2 separate regions of the Homo sapiens genome follow, and region 1 is linked to region 2. Evidence: fine-mapped expression QTL. A gene starts in region 2. The other region holds a variant in brackets. All regions are shown on one strand. Distances are from middle to middle. Region 1 holds the start of MRPS18A (mitochondrial ribosomal protein S18A). Region 2 holds the start of ABCC10 (ATP binding cassette subfamily C member 10).

Evidence for each region.
Region 1: its variant is fine-mapped to the expression of ABCC10 in whole blood (TOPMed, PIP 0.99).

The regions. Positions count from the first base shown.
Region 1 is chr6:43,686,577-43,694,906 of GRCh38, forward strand. It overlaps MRPS18A (mitochondrial ribosomal protein S18A), which reads right to left and starts at 1,215. Exons shown (of 6, transcript NM_018135.4): 1 at 1,092-1,215. The coding sequence starts at 1,203. It overlaps LOC124901320 (a long non-coding RNA gene), which reads left to right and starts at 2,386. Exons shown (of 2, transcript XR_007059586.1): 1 at 2,386-2,763; 2 at 3,095-3,317. RefSeq lists enhancers at 969-1,028, 974-1,585. The variant C/T (reference allele first, on the strand shown) is at 3,559.
Region 2 is chr6:43,424,082-43,432,411 of GRCh38, forward strand. It overlaps ABCC10 (ATP binding cassette subfamily C member 10), which reads left to right and starts at 3,460. Exons shown (of 22, transcript NM_001198934.2): 1 at 3,460-3,676; 2 at 3,887-4,058; 3 at 8,061-8,330. The coding sequence starts at 3,898. LOC105375065 (a long non-coding RNA gene) reads left to right here. Exons shown (of 6, transcript XR_007059585.1): 6 at 612-1,933. RefSeq lists enhancers at 1,414-1,935, 4,037-4,106.

The DNA of each region.
Region 1 (8,330 bases), 260 kb after region 2:
CAAAGAGACCTCTTCTGAGACAAATCCAATGGCCCCTTCATTAGGCCCTTTTTAGACTTTTCTGCTCCCTCTGACAACAATGATCACTCTTTTCCACTGGATACTTCTCAGCTTTCGTTAAAGGATATGCTGCCCAATACTATGCCAGATCCTCAAAAAACCCCACATCTCTTCTTTTGCACATCACTCATCCTTTCCTGCTTCCAGGAGTACACAAAGGAAGGCTATGTCCTAAAAGACCGTTTCACTCTCCGCCAGATTCCATCCTTTTGTGAGCCTGCTCAAGACACATCCTCTTTATGAAAACTTCCAACTGGGTTTGCCGTTTCCAGTAACTGAGTCTCCCTGTACTTCGTCACGTAAAAGGCTAACTTGCATTTATTGGAGTGTGTATATACATAATCTCATTAGAACCTAAGCTTTTCAGAAAAAGGGCTGTATTTTCTGTCTCCAGAATTCCTTCACAGCTTGAAGCATAGCACTTGGCATTCAGTAAACTCTCAGTTGATGCTCGAATCAGGCCGCTTTCCCAGATTAAGATTAATGAAAAGCTGAACTACCATCCTGCATTTGCCTATGTCTCAGCTATTCAATGGCCTTTCCACTTTGGCCTCCCCCTCACAGGGAGACTAGCGGCCCGGGGCAGAGAACGCCGCCATCAGATCACAGCATTTTGAGAAGGGAAAGTGGAAAGGGAGGCTCTGGGAGGGTACCCAGATGGCCTTCCTTCGTGATCCAGAGACTCTTTAATAAAAGAGACTGCGATTCGGAGAACATGGAAGGAAGAATTAACATGCAAACCCTTTCCGAAAACTTTTCTGAGCCCTAGGACAGGTTTAGTGTCTGCTCCTGCTAAGTAAGCAGGCTTTTCTCTCCGTCCTCCTCCGCCTTGTGAAGATACTCACAAGGGGCAGGAGATCAAGATAAGGCACCAGGGTGTGGAAGGGGCTTTTAAGCACGCCTGGGGAGCCGGTACCTCCAAAGTTTCAGAATCGGACGAAGGAAAGGTAGGAAGGAGCGCACCGGGGCTGGCGGAAGCAGTCTCTGCCGCTCTTCTTAATTTCAGGAGGTTGCTGGGACGCATGACTCACCTTCCCTGAACCCGCGAGCTGGAAGCCGAGACCAGCTGGTCGCTGCCGGGCCCGCTAGTAGCCCACGGAGAAGCCGCCCACAGCCGGACACCAGAGCCTTGAGGGCCGCCATCTTCAAAAACCTACCCTGACCTCTCGTCCATTTCCGCTTCCGGAACGTAGCGCCCGCCGCCGCAGTGGTGGGGCAGGAACGGCGGGGCGGGGTTGTAGTTCGCTTGCTCCTGTCACATCATTTCTCTCACCTGTCCGCTTTGGGATACGAAGAGAGGCTTCTGCGTCAAGCCTATATTTCGTGTTAAGGATCTAGGGGAGGTCTTCTAGCTCCTGTCTGCCAATGCCTACAAGTCTTCAAGGTTGCATTCGTTTCCTGGAAGGCTTCCTTAGGAAAATCGCACGCAACACCCCACCTATGTCTTTAAAGCTTTCTCTTCACTGCACGTGAGCTGTGGACTTTTAGCTTCTGTGACTGGGGCTAGACCTCTACGGGAGAGGCTGAAATGGTTAGGAACTCTGGCTCTGGAGTATCGGATATCAGGCAGACCTGGGATAGAATTGATACCCCCTTCTTCCCTGACCACTGCCACACTGATCTTTGATTTGCATATACTTAGACCTCTCTCTAGCCCCAGGGCCTTGATACAAGCTATTTCCTTTGTCTGCTCTTTAGCTGTCTAGTTAGCTTCTGCTTATTTCTTAGAGCTCACCTCAAACCTTATTTCCACAGTTTTGCTTGACTGCCCATTCTCAGCACCAGATGCCTCTCCATCTTAGTGCTTGGGACAATTTCAGTTTTATGTTTGTTTTGTATGTGTCTTCTCACCAGACTGTAAGCTCCATGAAGTCAGGAACATTGTTTTCTGTTGACTCGCACATCTCCAGCACTTAGAATAGTTCCTGACACATAATAAGAGTACAATATATACTTGTTGAATGAATGAGTAGAATCTATTTTATAGGGCCTAGGGGAGGACTAGACCCTGAAGATTAGATGTGATAAAACATAAGTGATCGGCCGGGTGTGGTGGCTCATGCCTGTAATCCCAGCACTTTGGGAGGCTGAGGCGGGTGGATTACCTGAGGTCAGGAGTTCAAGACCAGCCTGACCAACATGGTGAAACCCTATCTACTAAAAATACAAAAATTAGGTGGGTGTGGTGGCGGGCACCTGTAATCCCAGACACTTGGGAGGCTGAGGCAGGAGAATCGCTTGAACCCAGGAGGCGGAGGTTGCAGTGAGCCAAGATCACACCATTGCACTCCAGCCTGGGCGACAAGAGTGAAACTCCGTCTCAAAAACAAAACAAAACAAAACAAAACAAAACAAAAGGGCTCAATAAACATAAGCTAGTTAATAGAGCAGTTATGGAGATGACTCTTTTCACAAGTTGGACTCACTTGTGTTGTAAGGAAGCTTATGGTACCAAAGAGAAAATACAACTGCCAGTTTTTCCTCTTTCAGATTTGTGAGACGTATAGGATGTTCCTCTGGAGCTCCACAGGAAAGGAAAATCATTCACAACTCAGTTCTTCCTATCCTTCTCTGATTCAAGATGGGAAAATCAGGCTTATTAAATGACATAGCATGTTTTCTGATGAGTAGGAGAGGAGCCCATCATCCAGTTGGGACCGTCACCCTAATAGGAGGATGCAGAGCAGCTGCTGTATGGAAAATGTGAGTGGCATCACCATAGACAGGGAGAACAGGAGAAATGCAGCATTGGGTTACGTTAAAACATCTCATTTAGCAAAGGTAAACCCGGTGAAGGGGAAACTTAAAAGAAAAGTCAATCAAGGTGGTAGAGACTGACACATGGATTAGGAGTGAAGCAGAGGGTCTTAGTGAGGTGTAGGTCTAGGTGTCCCAGCCAGGATCAAGAAAGCTTTGACTCTCCCTATAGCTTCCAAGTTTGTTCTGCATAGATGACCTTGAGCTTATAGATGTATAGATGACCTTTTGTGTTTGTACTACATCCTCTGTTTCTTCACCCATTTCCAACTTCCAGGAATCCAGTAGAGACAAGGGCAGCAACAGAGCCCCACCCAGGGCTTGCTTTGGACACAGTGAGCTAAAGCATTCGAGTGCCAACCCTCTTCTCATTATCTTATCTTAACTTATCATAAACAAATTTTATTTTAAAAAACAACTATGACAGGTAACATGTGATCATTGTAGAAAAATGAAACAATAAATAAAGTAAAAAGAAAATAAATGTCATCTAAAATCCAGAGATAAGCATTGTTTACATTTAGCAAGATGAAATAATACTGTGGATATTCTTTGCCTTATAATATCTTATTTTTCTGAATCCATTTATGATTAGTCCCTACAATTCTGTGAGACCAGGTTTGGATCAGGAGACTAGCTTTAAAAAACAACACATCTTTTAATTAAAGTATTACCTGTGTAAGAAAAATACACAGGCTGGGTACAATGGCTCACGCCTGTAATCCCAGCACTTTGGGAGGC[C/T]GAGGCAGGTGGATCACTTAAGGTCAGGAGTTCGAGACCAGCCTGGCCAACATGGTGAAACCTCATCTCTGCTAAAAATACAAAAATTAGCTGGGCGTGGTAGGCTCCTGTAATCTCAGTTCCTCAGGAGGCTGAGGCAGGAGAATCACCTGAACCCTGCAGGTGGAGGTTGCGGTGAGCCGAGATCACGCCATTGCACTCCAGCCTGGGCAACAGAGTGAGACTGTCTCAAAAAAAAAAACAAAAAACCCAAACAAACAAACAAACAAAAAACAACAAAACACACAAATCATCAGTGTACTGCTTGATGAATTTTCGCAAAGGGACACACTACCCATACTGGAGTGGAGTGGCATGTTCAAGCAGAACTTGACTGGCACTCTAGAACACCCCATTGTGTCCCCTTCCAGACACTACCCCGCAAGGATAATCATTATCCTGACTTTTAGCACAATACATTACTTTTCCCTGCATTTGACCTTTATATAATATTCCACTGTGAATATACTATATTTTAAAAAATCACTTTTTTTTCTGTTGATAGAATTTAGATACTTGCCACTTGGGACTACTACAAAGAGTGCTGTAACGTTCTTCTACGTGACTCTTGGTGAACACAAGAACAAACTTCTTTGGGGCCTATCTCGCGGTAGAACTGTTAGGTTGCAGGGTATGCCTATGCTCAGCTTTAGTAGAAGATATTGCCTTGACAGTTTTTACAAAAGCCTTTTTAAATTAAATTTTTTTTTTTTGAGACAGAGTCTTGCTCTGTCACCCAGGCTGGAGTGCAGTGGCGTGATCATGGCTCACGGTAGACTGGACTTCTTGGGCACGGGTGATTCTCCCACCTCAGCCTCCTGAGTAGCTGGGACTACAGGTACATGACACTATGCCCGGCTAATTTTCTGTATTTTTTGCAGAGGTGGGGTTTTCCCATGTTGCCCAGGCTGGTCTTAAACTCCTGGGCTCAAGCAATCTGCCTGTCTCAGCCTCCCAAACTGCTGAGATTACAGGCACGAGTCACCATGTCTGGCCCAAAGGCCAGGCTAGATACTGTCAAACAATTTTCCATAATGATTGTACCAGTTTACTCTGGTATCAACTGTGTGTGACAGTTCTAATTGCTCCACACCTTGTCAATATTTGATTTTTTTTTTTGGTATTTTTAATCTTGCCATTCTGGTTGGCGTGTAGTAGGATCTCACTGTGTATTTATCTTACATTTCTCTGATGCTTAATGAAGATGAGTAACTTTTCATATGTTCATAGACCATTTATTTATATTTATTTATTTATTTATTTATTTTTGAGACAGAGTCTCACTCTGTCCCACAGGCTGGAGTGCAATGGTGCGATCTTGGCTCACTGCAACCTCCGCCCCCCAGGTTCAAGTGATTCTTCTGCCTCAGCCTCCCGAGTAGCTGGGATTACAGGTGCACCCCACCATGTCCAGCTAATTTTTGTATTTTTAGTACAGACAGAGTCTCACCATGTTGGACAGGCTGGTATGGATCTCCTGACCTCCAATTATTCACCTGCCTCGGCCTTCCAAAGTGTTGAGATTACAGGCGTGAGCCACCACACCTGGCCAATAAATTTCAAGCGTGCAGTTTATATAGCAATATAGGTCATTTAGACATCTCTTTTGTAAAATGTGTGTTTAATATTTTGGCTGATGTTATATTGGGTTGCCTGTGTTTTGCTTTTCTTTTTTCTATTTATTTATTTATTTAAAGACAGGACTTCCCTGTCACGCAGGCTGTAGTGCAGTGGCACATTCGTGGCTTTCTGCAGGCTTGACCTCTCAGGCTCAAGTGATCCTCCAACCTCTCAGCCTCCTGAGGAGCTGGGACTATAGGCATACACTATGATACCCAACTAATTTTTTTTTTTTTTTTGAGATGGAGTCTAGCTCTGTCGCCCAGGCTGGAGTGGAGTGGCATGATCTCGGCTCACCGCAACCTCCGCTTCTTGGGTTCAAGCAATTCTCCTGCCTCAGTCTCCTGAGTAGCTGGGATTACAGGCTCCCACCACCATGCCCAGCTAATTTTTATATTTTTAGTAGAGACGGGGGTTTCACCATATTGGCCTGGCTGGTCTCGAACTCTTGACCTCTGGTGATCTGTCTACCTCGGCCTCCCAAAGTGCTAGGATTATAGGCATGAGCCACCACGCCCAGCCTGATACCCAGCTTGTTTTTAATTTTTTTGTGGAGACAGGGTCTCACTATGTTGCCCAGACTGGTCTCGAAGTCCTCCTCTCAAGCGATCCTCCTGCATCAGCCTCCCAAAGTGCTGGGATTACAGGCATGAGCTACAGCTCCTGGCCTGTCTTTTTCTTATTGATTTGTAGTTCTTTATATATGCTGGATACTTATCCTTTCTTGAATATATGTACTTCAAATGTCATCTCCCTCTCTGTGGGTTGCCTTTTCATTCTCCTGTAGTTTTTTTTTTTATGAGGAGTATTTAAAAAATTTTAATATAGTGCAATTTATCAGTTTTTTTCTTTTATGGTTGATGCTTCTTGTTTCCTTTTCAATTCTTTTTCTGGCTGGGCGTGGTGGCTCATGCCTGTAATCTCAACACTTTGAGAAGTTGAGGCAGGACGATTGCTTGAGCCCAGAAGTTTGAGACCAGCCTGGGCAACAGGTGAAACCCCATCTCTACTGAAAATACACAGAAAAATTAGCCAGGCACGGTGGTGCATGCCTGTAGTCTCAGCTACTCAAAAGGCTGAGGTGGGAGAATCACCTGAGCCCGGGAAGTCAAGGCTGCAGTGAGCCATGATTGTGCCGCTGCACTCCAGCAGCCTGGGCAATGGGAGTGAGACCTAATTAAAAAAAAAAAAAATTAGCTGGGTACGTGCATGCAGTCCAGGTTACTTGGAAGGCTAAAATGGGGAGGGTCACTTGAGCCCAGGTGTTTGAGGTTACGGTGAGCTATGATGACGCCACTGCACTTCAGCCTGGGTGATGGAGTAAGAAGGTGTCTCTACAAAAAGTAAAAAATAAATAATAATTTTTGTCCTCTTCAAGGTCATGAAGATGTTCTTCTGTCTTTTTTTCTAAAAACTTTATTGTTTACTTTTCACATTTAGATCTTTGAGTCATCTGGAATTGTTTTGTTATGGTCTGAAACTGGGATTAAGATTAATTTTTCCCGTATAATTTCAATATCTAACTGACCTAGCACCATTTAAAATTTTCACACTTTTCCTTTTTTTTTTTTTTGAGACGAAGTTTTGCTGTTGTTGCCCAGGTTGGAGTGCAATGGTGTGATTTCCACTCACTGCAACCTCCACCTCCTGGGTTCAAACGATTCTCCTGCCTCAGCCTCCCGAGCAGCTGGGATTACAGGTGCCTGCCACCATGCCCGACTAATTAAAAATTTCACACTTTCCCCACTGCATTTCATCTGGTCTGTTTTCTGGAATCTCTATTTAGTTCCAGTGGTCTCTTTTTCTGTCATTCGGCACCATACACACACACACACACACACACACACACACACACACACACACACACACATATATATATATATATATATATCTTCATTTGTTTATTTTTTCAGAGATGGAGTTTTGCTCTGTCACCCAGGCTAGAGTGCAGTGGCTTGAACATGGCTCACTGCAGCTTCAACCCCCTGGGCTCAAACAATCCTCCTGCCTCAGCCTCCTGAGTAGCTGGGACGACAGGCAAACTTTGGCACTATATTTAATGGCTATGTACTATTTCACTGTCTGGAAGTGCAATCTCCAATCTCCAATTGCTAAGCTTTGGCTTTTTTTTTTTTTTTTGAGAGGAAGTCTCACTCTTGTCCCCCAGGCTGGAGTGCAATGGTGCAATCTCGGCTCACTGCAACCTCTGCCTCCTGGGTTCAAGCGATTCTCCTGCCTCAGCCTCCCAAGTAGCTGGTATTACAGGTGCCTGCCACCATGCCCGGCTAATTTTTGTATTTGTAGTAGAGATGGGGTTTCGCCATGTTGGCCAGGCTGGTCTCGAACTCCTGACCTCAGGTGATCTGCCTGCCTTGGCCTCCCAAAATGCTGGGATTACAGGCATGAGCCACTGTGCCTGGCCGCTTTTAGCTTGCTTTCAATTCAAAATATTTTCTTTCATTTTTTTTTTTTTTTTGAGACAATAGTCTCACTCTGTTGCCCAGGCTGGAGTGCAGTGGTGCGATCTTGGCTTACTGCAACCTCTGCTTCCCAGGTTCAAGCAATTCTCCTGCCTCAGCCTCAGCCTCCTGAGTAGCTGGGATTACAGGTGCCCGCCACCAAGCTTGCCTAATTTTTTGTATTTTTAGTAGAGACAGGGTTTCACCATGTTGGCCAGGCTGCTCTTGAACTCCTGACCTCAGGTGATCCACCCGCCTCGGCCTCCCAAAGTGCTAGGATTACAGGCGTGAGCCACTGCGCCTGGCCCAAAATTTTTTCTAATATCTAGCTTCCTACTCCAAAAACAGTATGTTCTATTCAATCAGTGAGTCTTTTATTCCCTTCTCCCTAGTTGAGTATGCTGTGGATTCTTTTTGTAAGTACAACAGTGCTGTGGAATGAAAGGGGGTCAGGGCCCTTGTCTGGGAGCTGCAGATGGTTAGCTGCCACCCAAAGTAAGGGTCTTTTTCTGAGCCTAAGTCTCTAGGGTTGTTGACGGAGTCATTCTCATGCATGAGAACTATTTCCAGCTGCAGTGGCAATCCTGGAAATTAAAGAGAAGCAATGACAGTGTATACACATATATGAGAGAAGGGAGTCTGAGGAACCTCTCT
Region 2 (8,330 bases):
TACAGTGGCCCAATCATAGTTCACTGCAACCTTAAACTCTTGGGCTCAACCCATCCTCCCACCTCAGCCTCCTGAGTAGCAGTGACTACAGGTGGGCACTGCCATGCCCGGCTAATTTTTTATTTTTATTTTTGTAGAGATGAGGTCTTGCTATGTTGCCCAGGCTGGTCTCAAACTTCTGGCCACAAGCAATCCTCTCACCTTGGCCTCCCAAAGTGCTAGCATTAGAAGTGTGAGCCACTGTGCTTGGCCCAAGTATTATTTAGGAAATACATTCCATAAGGCTATAGCTGTCATAGACAGTGATTCCTCTGATGGATCTGGACAAAGTAAATTTAAAACCCTCTGGAAAACATTCACCACACTAGATGCCATTAGGAATATCTGTGAGCCAGGCATGTTGGCTCATGTCTGCAATTCCAGCACTTTGGGAGGCTGAGGCAGGAGGATGGCTTGAGGCCAGGAGTTTGAGACCAGCTTAAGCAACATAGTGAGACCCTGCCTCCATTAAAAAAAAAAGCGCTCTCTCTCCCCCCTCCCCCTCCCTCTCCCTCTCCCCACGGTCTCCCTCTCCCTCTCCCCACGGTCTCCCTCTCCCTCTCTTTCCACAGTCTCCCTCTGATGCCGAGCAGAAGCTGGACTGTACTGCCGCTATCTCGGCTCACTGCAACCTCCCTGCCTGATTCTCCTGCCTCAGCCTGCCGAGTGCCTGGGATTGCAGGCGCGCGCCGCCACGCCTGACTGGTTTTCATATTTTTTTTGGTGGAGACGGGGTTTCGCTGTGTTGGCCGGGCTGGTCTCCAGCTCCTAACCGTGAGTTATCTGCCAGCCTCGGCCTCCCGAGGTACCGGGAATGCAGACGGAGTCTCATTCACTCAGTGCTCAATGTTGCCCAGGCTGGAGTGCAGTGGCGTGATCTCGGCTGGCTACAACCTCCACCTCCCAGCCGCCTGCCTTGGCCTCCCAAAGTGCCGAGATTGCAGCCTCTGCCTGGCCGCCATCCCGTCTAGGAAGTGAGGAGCGTCTCTGCCCGGCCGCCCATCGTCTGAGATGTGGGGAGCGCCTCTGCCCCGCCGCCCCGTCTGGGAGATGAGGAGCGTCTCTGCCCGGCCGCCCCGTCTGAGAAGTGAGGAGCCCCTCCGCCCAGCAGCCGCCCCGTCTGAGAAGTGAGGAGCCCCTCCGCCCGGCAGCTGCCCTGTCTGGGAAGTGAGGAGCGTCTCCGCCTGGCAGCTGCCCCGTCCGGGAGGTGGGGGGCAGCCCCCGCCCGGCTAGCTGCCCCGTCCAGGAGGTGGGGGGGGGCGCCTCCGCCCGGCCAGCTGCCCTGTCCTGGAGGTGGGGGGCGCCTCTGTCCGGCCGCCCCTTCTGGGAAGTGATGAGCCCCTCTGCCCGGCCGCCACCCCATCTGGGAGGTGTACCCAACAGCTCATTGAGAACGGGCCATGATGACGATGGTGGTTTTGTCGAATAGAAAAGGGGGAAATGTGGGGAAAAGATAGAGAAATCAGATTGTTGCTGTGTCTGTGTAGAAAGAAGTAGACATAGGAGACTCCATTTTGTTCTGTACTAAGAAAAATTCTTCTGCCTTGGAATGCTGTTAATATATGACCTTACCCCCAACCCCCTGCTCTCTGAAACATGTGCTGTGTCCGCTGAGGGTTAAATGGATTAAGGGCGGTGCAAGTGCTTTGTTAAACAGATGCTTGATGGCAGCATGCTCGTTAAGAGTCATCACCACTCCCTAATCTCAAGTACCCAGGGACACAAACACTGCGGAAGGCCGCAGGGTCCTCTGCCTAGGAAAACCAGAGACCTTTGTTCACTTGTTTATCTGCTGACCTTCCCTCCACTATTGTCTTATGACCCTGCCAAATCCCCTTCTGCGAGAAACACCCAAGAATGATCAATAAAAATAAATAAATAAATAAATAAAAAACTGTGATTCATGGGATTCATGGGAGGAGGACAACGTATATCAACATTAACAGAAGTTTGGAAGAAGCTGATTCCAACCTTCACGGATGGACCTTCAAGACATCAGTGGAGGAAGTAACTGCAGATGTGATGGAAACAGCAAGTGAATTAGAATTAGAAGTGGAGCCTGGCCAGGTGCAGTGGCTCACACCTATAATCCCAGCACTTTGGGAGGCCAAGGCAAGCGCATCACCTGAGGCCAGGAGTTCAAGACCAGCCTGGGCCAGGTAGCAAGACTCTGTTAATTAATTACTAAAGATTGTGAAATGCAAACCTACATCTCTTAGTTTTTAAAAATAGGAAAATTAATTCTTGACGTTGAGGGATATGGGGCTTCTTACTGAGATTAAGTGGGATAACCATAATTGTCATTTGTTTAGCTTTTCTTCTTCAAGCACTGTACACACCTATGTAAAGGCGGATACCAACACCATGCCTGACAAACATAATAAAATAAAGATGCAGAAGTAACCTGCCCAACATCCCTCTGCTAAAAGCATTCAAACCCAGGTCCGTATAATTATAAAGGTTATGTTCTTCCCACTGCTTCCTTAAAAGATTTATTGGAGGACTACCCTAGGCAAAGCACTTGCCCTAAGCACTCTAAATTAATTATTCAACTCTCTCAACAGTACTTTAGTATTGGTATTGTCCCTGTTGTACAAATAAAGAAGTTGAGGCTCGGCCGGGGTGGTGGCTCACGCCTGTAATCCCGGCTCTTCGGAAGGCCAAGGCGGACGGATCACGAGGTCAGGAGATCGAGACCATCCTTGCCAACATGGTGAAACCCCGTCTCTACTAAAAATACGAACAAAAAAATTGGCTGGGCGTGGTTGCGCGCGCCTGTAGTCCCAGCTACTCGGGAGGCTGAGGCAGGAGAATCGCTTTAACCCGGGAGGCGGAGGTTGCAGTGAACCGAGATTGTGCCACTGCACTCCAGCCTGGTGACAGAGCGAGACTCCGTCCCCCCCCCAAAAAAAAGTTGAGGCTCAAAAAAGTTAGGTAACTTGTCCAAGGTCATGCAGCCCTAGAATAATAAGGGAAAACAGTGTGTCCCAAAATGGCATTATTTGTCCGTGGGGCAGGTATGTTTGAATTTCCATCCATCCATCTATCTATCTGAGACTGGGGTCTCGCTATGCTGCTTGGACTGTTCTCGAACTCCTGGGCTCAGGCCATCCTCCTGGGATCTACCGGCGCGCAGAGACTACGGGCGCGCAGGGACTACCGAGGCGCGCAACCGTGCCCGGCTCCCCACCTCTTCAAGAAATGGAGATTGCAATGCTTGTGCCAACTAGTAAGCTTACACAGTTGTGAGCGAATACTCCACGTGAGAGGTTATAAATGACGTTGCACTAAGGGAGGGATGGATCCTTAACGCAAGTCAGGCCACAAAAGCGTACCAAAACGCAACTGTGCGTCTGCACCAGCGCGCCTGCGTGCAAAGGCCAGCCGAAGCAGAGAGCAGTGCACATGCGTGCAGCTACCAGCATATGGGCGTGGCGAATAGCGCCGGCTAGGTCTTCCAACCTCTAGGTGGGGTGCCAGCCGGGGCGGGCCCAGCACCCCGGCCGGGCAGTACTTTTTTTTTTTTTGCATACACCAGTTCTCAGGATATCGGAATCCGGTGCACAGCAGCTTCTTCAGGTTTGAGGTTCCGGATGCCTGGGGGCGGAGAAACGGGAGGGGAAAAACAGATGGCAAGGTGGGTGACCAGCGTCCAGAAATCCACTGGGGAAACCTCCTCCCGTTTTTACCCTTGGTACCGCGAGAATGGGCGGGGTCTGGCTTCGGGGCGGAAGCGACGGGCGGTCCCGGTTCCAGGGCGGGGCTGGAGACAGGGAGACCCGGCTGGGAAGTGCAGGCAAAGCCGGCTGTTACCCTGCACAGCCGTCACCCTCAACTTTCCCTTCAGGTGAGGCGTCCATGGAACGACTTCTGGCCCAGCTGTGCGGCAGCAGCGCAGCGTGGCCGCTCCCGCTGTGGGAGGGGGACACCACAGGCCACTGCTTCACCCAGCTGGTGCTCAGCGCCCTGCCCCACGCGCTCCTCGCCGTGCTCAGTGCCTGTTACTTGGGCACCCCGAGGTGGGTAGAGACGGGCGCAAGGCATCTGTCCATGTGTGCCTGCAGATCTCACCCGCGGCCTACATCTTCCGGCAGTGTCACCAGAATAGCGAGGTCTCTGGAGTAGGGCAGAAGTAGAATAAAATCTAAGCATTGCTACTTAGCAGCAATGTGGCTGTTCTTGGGCAAGTACCTGCCTTCTCTGAGTCTCATTGTTGGGAGGTTTAAATGAGATAATGAATTTAAGCATATAGTGCAGCGCCTGGCATGTTTTTAAAGGTCCGATGAGTATCAGAAATCATCAGAATTGTCCATTTTCAGCTACCCGGACTCAGCTGTCATGAATTGGAGGCAGAATTGGGGGAACAACGTTTTTAGCCAAAAGCGATGATGTGTTTAAGTTGTAGGCTCAGTTTCTCACCACTGCAACCCATGAAACCTTAGTGTTTCCAGATTAAGAAAAGCATACCTAGGCTCAGCTGAAGAGGAAGCAGTAGATAGACAAGAAGAGCAAAATCAAACATTAAGCCTTCCCCAATTAAGGGCTATAAGGTGTGGATGCTAAACTCAACTTGATTTTGTATTTAGTTCTTGTATGGCTAGAGATGACTAAAGTTAGTCTCATTCTGGCTGCCGAGAAGATAGGAGGACGGTGTGGTCTCTGCCTTTGGGAGTTCCTAGTCTGATGGGGGGAAGTGTCTCTATCCAAGAGGTCTTTCTTGCTTTCTCATTAGACTGAGTTCCCAAAAGACTGTGCCAATTTTTAATAGCTGCTCTTCTGAGAAGGCTGTCTATGCTAGGTGATTAAACCCTTCTAGACTTTTGTCTCTGTGTAAGAAACAAATCAGGATTCCTCCCAGACCAAGCGGATACACAGCTTCTCCTATCCAAGGAAGGGATTCATCCGCCCCCTGGGAAAGCAAGAAAGACCATCATGTGATCAATAGAAATTGTGCTTCACTTCACTTATCAGCCTTGTGTGTGTTGCTGAGAAGGGTTAGAGAGATCGAGAATCTAAGACAGGAAAGGGCCTCAGAAGGCTTTAACTTGAGACTCACTGCTCACCATACTGGTGAGGAAAGTGAGATTCAGAGAGGAAAAGAGACTTGAAGGGGTGATGAGGCTGGTTGATGGCCAACTTGGGGCCAGTTTATGCCTCCAAGGGCCCAGTGTTCTTTCTTGGGTCCCCACATCTTAGGAAATATATATATTTTTTTCTTTTCCTTCTTTCTTTTCTTTCTTTCTTTTCTTTCTTGTGTGTGTGTGTGTGTGTGTGTGTGTGTGTGTGTGTGGCGGGGGGGAGGGGGGATTGTTATTGTTGTTTTGTTTTTTGAGGCAGCGTCTCCCTCTGTTGCCCAGGCTGAAGTACAGTGGTGCAATCACAGTTCACTGCAGCCTCAACCTCCTGGGCTCCAGCAACCTCTCACCTCAGCCTTTTGATTTGCTGGGGCCACAAGTGCATGCCACCACACCTGGCTAATTTTTTTAAAAATTATTTTTAATAGGCCGGGTGCAGTGGCTCAAGCCTGTAATGCCAGCACTGTAGGAGGCCAGGAGTTCGAGACCAGCCTGCCAACGTGGCAGAATGCCATCTCTACTAAAAATACAAAAAATTGGCCGGGCCCAGTGGCTCATGCCTGTAATCCCAGCACTTTGGGAGGCTGAGACAGGCAGATCACTGGAGGTCAGGAGTTTGAAACCAGCCTGGTCAACATGGTGAAACCCCATCTTGAATCGCTTGAACCCAGGAGGCAGAGGTTGTGGTGCGCCAAGATTGCACCACTGCACTCCAGCCTGGACGACAAAGCGAGACTCTGTCTCAAAAAGAAAAAATTATTTTTAGTAGAGACAAGGCCTTGCTTTGTTGTCCAGGCTGGTCTTGAACTCTTGGGCTCAAGCAATCCTTCTGCCTCAGCCTCCTAAAGTTCTGGGTTTACAAATGTGAGCCACCATGCCCAGCCAGAAATAGAAAAAAATTTTTTTTTTCTTTGAGACAGGGTCTTACTCTGTCACCCAGGCTGGAGAGCAGTGGCACGATCTCGGCCCACTGCAACCTCCACCTCTTGGGTTCAAGCGATTCTCCTGCCTTAGCCTCCAGAGTAGCTGAGACTACAGGCATGTGCCACCATGCCTGGCCAGTTTTCGTATTTTTACTAGAGATGGAGTTTCACTGTGTTACACAGGCTGGTCTTGAACTCCTGGCCTCAAGTGATCCACCTGCCTCTGCCTCCCAAAGTGCTGGGATTACAGGCTTGAGCCACCATGCCCAGCCCAGAAATAGAATTCTTAAAGGCTGATTTTTTATTCCCATCTAAATCCCTACAAATAACTGTCATCAGGTGGACTTTTAAGAAAACCCCCAGCTACTCGGGAGGCTGAGGCAGGGGAATCGCTTGAACCTGGGAGGCGGAGGTTGCAGCGAGCTGAGATCACGCCATTGCGCTCCAGCCTGGCGACAGAGCAAGACTCTGCATTTTAGCTTACAAGTAAACTTTTTTAGTAACCTAGCCGTGCCACAAAGGGTGTAACAGACTCAGTCCTCTTTTTGTATGAACTTTCAAGACATCCTGATACTCACTGCTGCAGATACGTTTTCCTGTATTTGATTCTTTTTTTTTTTTTTGGACAGAGTCTCTCTTTGTCACCCAGGCTGGAGTACAGTGGCACGATCTCAGCTCACTGCAACCTCCGCCTCCCAGGTTCAAGCGATTCTCGTGCCTCAGTGTCCCAAAGTAGCTGGGATTACAGGTGTGTGCCACCATTCCCTGCTAATTTTTGTATTTTTATTAGAGACCGGGTTTTACCATGTTGGCCAGGCTGGTCTCAAACTGCTGATCTCAAGTGATCTGCCTGCTTCAGCCTCCCAAAGTGCTGGGATTACGGGCATAAGCCACTGTGACCAGCCCCTGTATTTGATTCTTAATGCAGACAGATCACCTTTTGTTTATTAAAAACATTTTTTTATGCCAAGAAGATATAAACACAAGCAAAAAGAGATATTTTTCTTTAGCTAAAGGAGTCGCAAAAGCAATCCACACCACCTTCTATAATCAGTGGAAAGAGAGTAGAATATTCCAAGCCTTTATAAAGTTTAGGCTACCATATTAGAATATAAAAGCTGTATGTAAGTCCGATTTTTATTCATTTAATAGTGCTTCAGGTGAATTTAAGGGTACTGTTAGGTGGATCCTTTTGTAAAAATGAATATGTACCCTTTATCAGTTATCTGCATGAAAACTTTGGATTTTCTTTTTTTTCCTGAGACGGAGTCTTCCCCTGTCACCCAGGCTGGAGTGCATTGGCGTGATCTCAGCTCACTGCAACCTCCATCTCCCAGATTCAAGCGATTCTCCTGCCTCAGCCTCCTGAGTAGCTGGGATTGCAGGTGCCTGCCACCATGCCTGGCTAATTTTTGCATTTTTGGTAAAGATGGGGGTTTCACCATGTTGGCCAGGCTGGTCTCGAACTCCTAACCTCAGGCGATCCTCCCGTCTCAGCCTCCCAAAGTGCTAGGATTACAGGCGTGAGCCACGGCGCCCAGCCTGGATTTTTTTTAAAATTTTAGATTCATGAGGCATATGTGCTTGTTTGTTATTATACATGGATATATTATGTGATGCTGAAGTTTGGGCTTCTAATGATCCCATCACCAAAGTAGCAAACGTAGTACCCAGGATTTTTTTTTTCCTAGTTAGTCTTCATGTTAAGTACAATCTTACCTCAAAATTGTTAATGTCTGTGGTTTAAAAAAAAACATGAATCAGAAATGGTGTGGGTAGTTTAGAAAATGAGTTAGGTTCAGGTGGCCGGTTAGCTCAGTTGGTCAGAAAATGAGTTAGGTTCATCTGGGAAGACTTCCTGGGAGAAAAGACCCTGGGTTCTGAGGTAAAGTGGAGTAGGGATAAGATGTGCAAGGCAGGAAGGGAGTTGATTCCTTAGGTAAGTGAATTATTGGAGGTGAGGGGTATGTCTGGCTCCTGAGTCAGCCACGATGTGCCTCCTTGTCTTCCCCCTTGTCCCCAGGAGTCCAGATTACATCCTACCCTGCAGTCCTGGATGGCGCCTCCGACTTGCAGCTTCCTTCCTGCTTTCCGTCTTCCCGCTGCTAGACCTTCTTCCAGTTGCTTTGCCACCAGGGGCAGGCCCAGGACCCATAGGGCTAGAGGTGTTGGCAGGGTGCGTGGCAGCTGTGGCCTGGATCAGCCACAGCCTGGCCCTGTGGGTGTTGGCACATTCCCCTCATGGCCACTCCCGGGGTCCCTTGGCCTTGGCCCTGGTAGCCTTGCTGCCAGC